Regions from separate parts of the Homo sapiens genome. Here region 1 is linked to region 2. Evidence: fine-mapped expression QTL. A gene starts in region 2. The other region holds a variant in brackets. All regions are shown on one strand. Distances are from middle to middle. Region 1 overlaps PIK3R5 (phosphoinositide-3-kinase regulatory subunit 5). Region 2 holds the start of PIK3R5 (phosphoinositide-3-kinase regulatory subunit 5).

Evidence for each region. PIP is the estimated chance that this variant, and not a neighbour inherited with it, causes the effect.
Region 1: its variant is fine-mapped to the expression of PIK3R5 in whole blood (INTERVAL, PIP 0.91).

The regions. Positions count from the first base shown.
Region 1 is chr17:8,879,942-8,882,841 of GRCh38, forward strand. It overlaps PIK3R5 (phosphoinositide-3-kinase regulatory subunit 5), which reads right to left. Exons shown (of 19, transcript NM_001142633.3): 16 at 1,847-1,940; 17 at 1,689-1,771; 18 at 964-1,076; 19 at 1-845. The coding sequence ends at 698. All of the region lies in intron 1 of LOC124903919 (a long non-coding RNA gene), which reads left to right. Among named protein-coding and RNA genes, the nearest start is that of PIK3R6, 14 kb to the left of the region's middle. The variant C/CAGTA (reference allele first, on the strand shown) is at 1,642.
Region 2 is chr17:8,964,192-8,967,091 of GRCh38, forward strand. It overlaps PIK3R5 (phosphoinositide-3-kinase regulatory subunit 5), which reads right to left and starts at 1,516. Exons shown (of 19, transcript NM_001142633.3): 1 at 1,405-1,516. It overlaps PIK3R5-DT (PIK3R5 divergent transcript), which reads left to right and starts at 1,656. Exons shown (of 3, transcript NR_184080.1): 1 at 1,656-1,812; 2 at 2,576-2,900. RefSeq lists silencers at 1,440-1,759, 1,830-1,929.

The sequences.
Region 1 (2,900 bases), 84 kb before region 2:
AACCCTATCCTGTCTTCTAAGAATCTCAGATTCCAAAAGGAGATCAAGAGAGAATCTGTGCCGGGTTCTGAGAGTAGACAGGTCCAGCGTTAGTGCTGTTTTTCTGGAGACTCAGGAAACTTGAGAGAAATTATTGAGGTGTGTGCGTGTGTGTGTGCGCATGTGCGTACATGCATGCCATGTGTGTGTGGTGTTTGCAGGGAGAGGTGGTCTTGAAGTAGAGAAATGTTTCATCCACATTTCAATCACCTGAGCCCCACAGAGGAGGGGACTGAACTCCAGACATACAGGGTCCTCAAGTCTTTGGCAAAGTAAGGGGTAGGCTCAGCCAAGGTTGAGAGAAAAGGCCCAAGCCATCCCCCTGAGCACCAGAGCCTCAGATCTTCCTTCTAGAAAGGATCCTAGACCATGCTAATGGTCAGGGACTTCAGAGGTCAATTTACCCATCCTTCTCCTTCTACTGCCAGGAATCTAAGAGGCTATGGGGTCTGGCCCTTCTCTCTCTGATAGCTGTTGCTTTCCCAGAACCCTGAGGCCCCAGAAACCCTCTACTCCCAGCCCCTGCTCATTGCAGGACCCACAGTGGGACTATGGCTCTGCACAGGGCCATTCAGTTCTCCACAGAGAGGGACTGTCCTGGAGGGGTGGCCGAGGAGGTTGCCCCAGGGCTTCTGTCCAGTCTGGCGCTGGGCCCACACTAGGGCAGAGCTCCACTGAAAGTCATGATGGGCAGGCAGAGAAGGGAGCAGAGATCAGGTGCGGCCTGGGCCGGCAGGTCAGGAGGCGTCTGGGGTGGTGAGGAGAGGTCGCTCTTCTCTGGCTTGTAGCACGGTGAGACCTCACATCTGTGCAGCAGGGCAGGGGCCAGGGATCAGAGCAGGCCCCCATCCTTCCAGCTCCTTCCAGGCCTCTGGGTTGGTGGGAGCAGAAACTGCTCCCCTCCCTAGGACCCCCCTTTCCTACCTGACTACACTCTGCAGGATCTTTCTCTCATCCTGGTCCAGGCACACAGCAAAGGGGCAGCTGTTGGAGCCGATGATCTGCACCTTGTCCACTTTGATCTGCGATGTGCTAATCTGGAAGGAAGGCCCAGGTCAGCCCCAAATCCCTGGCCATCCAACACTGCCAGCCCCTGGCAGTTCCTTTTCTCAGAACTGCCCATCCACTTCTAGGGGTGTGGGAGGGCAGGGGTTTGTCTGACTGCGCTCCAGGGTTAATGGCCAGGTCACAGGAGGGAGCCTGAGGCCTCCATCAGCCCCTGCCTCCTCTCCAGCATCTGGAAGAAGCAAGTGCCCCCTGAGGAGACATTGCCCTGCCTGCTGCCCTCACCGGAGCAGCCCCAGGTCCCCTGATCCAGAGCCTGCTTTCTTTGGTCTCAGAGTCTTAGGACTCTCCTGGCACCCACCCCACAACTTTTCCACATACACGCGTCCTCTCACAGGGCACCCCTACCTCCCCGACACCCCGCAACACTCCACACCTGTGTGCATCCCCAAATCATACCCCTCACCCTGCCTCTCCTCCCCCACCTCTCCTCTCTCTCTCACACACACACAAGTATGTACACACGGGTGTGTATGTGCACACATGCACACACATACATGTGCACACACACGTACACACATACGCACATGCACGCTC[C/CAGTA]AGTAAGTCTCTTGAGGGTATGGCTGGAAGGAGAGGGAAGCCCGTACCTGGTTAAAGCCCTTCTTGGATTTGGAGTTCTGCCTTTTCACCACTTCTGTCAGGTTTAGCGTCAGGGCCTCCATGCTGGAATCTGAGGGGCAAGGACACTCAGGCCAGGCTCAGAGCACCTCCCTACTGCACACCCCACACTGACCACCCCACTCACCCAGCTCCTCCTGCTTCCGGCAGGCCTTGTTGAGGTTCACGGAGGTACAGACCTTCTCCAGGTTGCTCCAGCGACTTCGTCCACTGATGGCCCCCTGGAAATGCAGTGTAGCCAGACCCTCTGAGTCCAGAGGCCCCGGTGCCTGCTGCCTTCTCTTTGAAGGCCCATCAGTGACAGGGGGTTGCCTCTAGTTAGCATATCCCCAGAAAGCCCTCTCTTATTCACCAGGGCCCCTGTACCACCCTGGATAGACCTGGATGACTCCAGGGAAGAGCTCACGTCACTGGCTTGGTCTAGGGGTCAGCAGCCTCTGTGACCAGGTTGAAAGGTACAAGAGCTGAGAGCACCTGCAGGGGTGGTCCTGAAGCTCTCCTGCCGGGCCCAGAGTGAAGAAGGGTTGGGCCCACAGACATGCTGTTTCTGGCAGAGCCAGACCTGAACCCCCTCTTCAAGTCTTTGTGTGAATGTCTCTGTCATCAGGGACCTCCATGTTGTTAAACCGAAGAACACTTCTTGGTCCTCAGCTTACTTGACCTTACAGTTCACTGCTCTCCCCTCCTTGAAAACCTCTCCTGGGCTTTCGTGATGGCACCTTCCTGGTTTTTCTAGCGCCTCTCTGGCTGGTGCCTCTCTGCTTTGCTGGATCGCTGCCCTCTGCCCGCCATTACATCATGAAGGGCTCAAGGTTCTCCCCTTGGTCCTCTGCTCTTTGTATTCCCTGCTTCCCCCCTTCAGGAGTCTCCTCCGTGACCTTTTTCCATTAGCAGCTGTCCACCCATCTTCATATTCACCACAAAGTCAGGCCCGTTCAGCCAGCCGTCTATTCTCACTGTCTCCTTATACCTCTCAAGGCCTCTCAACCTCAATAATATGTCCCGACCCAAACTCAAGCTCTTCCCCAACTGGACCCCGGCCTCTTCCTGTGGTCCCCCCAGAGAAGATGGTGCTGCCAGTCACAGAGGAGTGACTCCAGGAGTCTGGCCTCTCCTTTCCTAACCCATCCATGGGCCCTGCTGATTACATCACTCACATCTGTCTCCCATTCCTTTCCAGC
Region 2 (2,900 bases):
GACCAACCTGGGCAACATGGCAAAACCCTGCCTCTACAAAAAATACAAAAATTAGCTGGGCGCCGTGGTGCTGACCTGTAATCCCAGCTACTTGGGAGGCGGAGGCGGAGGATTGCTTGAGCCTGGGAATTTAAGGCTGCAGTGAGCCATGATCACGCCACTGCACTCCAGCCTGAGTGACAGAGCAAGACCCTGTCTCAATAATAATAATAATAATAATTCCACACAGCTCTATGGGTCAGTATGACAGCCCATTTTATGAATCAGGAGACTGAGGCTGGGTTGGGGGACAGTGTGATGCTGCAGGTCACACAGCTGGATCCGGTTGGAACTTGGGTCTCTTTTCCACATCATGCATGGTTCCCAAGCAACGGCTTCAGCATCATCACTTAAGGAGCTCATTCAAAGTTTTGAAAACTACAGATTCCAGATCCCATCCCTGGAAAGCCACGTTGTAGGGTTGGCTCCAAGAGAGCCCTACCTGCAGTCAGCTCTGGGAGCCAGTGCCTTACAGGTGGTCCTGAGGGCAGGAAGGAAAGTGTGGGGTGGATGAGAAGACACAGAAGGAAAACGAGGGTGTCAGTCCAGAGAGGACCTTGGAGGCAGGCTTGGCCTACTTTTAGCCCTTATTCTGCCTAAACCCACCCCTCCTCTCTACTCCGAGTCTTGTTAACTCGCTTTATACCACATCCTGCTGCTTTAACCTCGCCTTCCTTTTCCTTCTGAACAATCTCCTTCCTCCTACTGACCTGAACTTTTTGTGTATTTACCCCAGGCCGGGATGGGCCAGCACGCGCACATGCGCATGCCCACACACACACACACACACACACACACACGAGTCACGCGGGGATGTCCAGTGTGTAAACACAGATCCTCTGAGAGCAGAAAGCGTGCAGTTCTCTAGGACAGCAGCCGCGTCTGGGCCCAAGGCTGGCTAACTAGCAGGCTGAGTGAGGCTCGACGGAGGGCGCCTTACGCGGGCACTTCCATGACTCCCAGGTTCTGACGGCACAAGAGCCCTGATGCCCACGCTCACGGACAGTTCCCCGCTGGAGCGGGCAGGGGACCTGACCCTACGACACAGGGCGTCCTGTGTCAGAGGCAGGAGGCTGAGGACACAGCTGCGCAGAGCCGCCCAGCAGAGGTTACCCGGATAACGATAAGTGGTCCCCGCGACGCCCCTTAAGTCTCTGGGGTTATCTGGAGCGCAGGTTTGCAGACCCGCTGCCCCCGCGGTGGGCCAGGTCCACGGGGCCGGAAGATAGCAGGATCTGTCCAGCCCTCGGGCTGCGGCGGCTGCTCGCGGAGCCCACTCTCCCCGACGGTCCCCAGCTTGCTCCAGCTCTGCCTGGAGCTCCCATGCGTGCCCTCCGCATCCGCCCTGGCCGCCCAGTCACACACCTGCAGTCCCCGCCGGGCGCCGAGCCCCTCTCCAGCGGCGACTCCCTGCGATTCGGGTGACCGTCGGGACCACCGCGCCCCAGCTGGAGCCGCGCGGCGAGCCGCAGCATCTGCCCAGCCTGGGCTCCTCCGGCGGGCGGGGCGGAGCCTGTCAGGGGGCGGGGCCTAATGGGGCGGGGCTGACCGCGGAGCCGGCCTCTCCAGCCACCTGGCGGCCCGGCAGCGTCAGCCAGGTGCGCGCCCGGCCCCACATCCTCTGGGTCACGCCCCCGAGGCCGCAAGGCGTCTGAGAAGCAGCCCCGGCTCTGACCCGCCAGCCCTCGGAAGAAGCAGACCCTGGCCGGTCCATGGCAGTGGCCCGAGGGGCACCAGCGCGGAGCACCAGCGACCCCCAAGGAGTAAGGGGAGGTTAGGCCCCCGCGTCGGAAGCGCGGCTTTGGCCCCGCAGGAGGGCTGGGCGGAGCAGGGGGGCAGGTCTGGGGTAGGGGCTTAGGGGAAAGACGAGAAAGAGGAAGCTCCGACGAGCTGCTTCCTTCTCTCACTGCGACCCACTTCCTCTTCCTACTTCTATTTTCTTTCTTTTTTTTTTTTTTTTTTTTGAGATGGAGTCTCGCTCTGTCGCCAGGCTGGAGTGCAGTGGCACGATCTTGACTCCCCACAACCTCCGCCTCCCGGGTTCAAGCGATTCTCCTGCCTCAGCCTCCCGGGTAGCTGGGACTACAGGCGCGCGCCACCACGCCCAATTTTTTGTATTTTTACTAGAGACGGGGTTTCACCATGTTGGCCAGGATGGTCTCGATCTCTTGACCTCGTGATCCGCCCGCCTCGGCTTCCCAAAGTGCTGGGATTACAGGCGTGAGCCACTGCGCCCGGCCCCTACTTCTATTTTCTTTGGGTGCCCTTAACCCTTAAAATGCCTGCACTACTGCTGTGCAGACGGGCACCTTGACCCGCATCCTTCTGCAGGAACCTTCATAGAAATACCAGCCAGTCCCGGCGTTCAGCACTGCTGTTCCAGCCTCTGGCTGGACTTCCCGCCCTCCCTGGCCGGCACCAAGGCTACTGTCACCTGAGTGGTTTCCCCAGCCCCTGGGGAAGGGAGTGAGGGTGTGCGGGAGTTCCTGCCTCCAGGGTCAAGGCCCTCTTCTTGCCTCCCCCTTTTCTCCCCCAGACGACGTTGCAGATGATGCTCTACCAAGAGTTGGAAGGACTCCCCAGGGAATCCCACAAGACACTGCGCTTCCTATGCCTCCTTTCCCTCGTTTAAAAAATGGGGATAAGAAGGTTGGCTACTGCTCCGACAGCCCTCACAATGGAAGAGTAGCACTTCATTTGTGGGTTAACAAAGGGCAACGCTGAAATCTCCACTTCCACTATTGAATGGAACTGTGTCATAATATCTGTTAGAGGCGTGCAAACTCGGCCACAAGGTCATGGTCATACGTTATTGTTGGTCAAAAGCCGCAGCCCTACCTGAGGCTTTGAGAGATATGAAC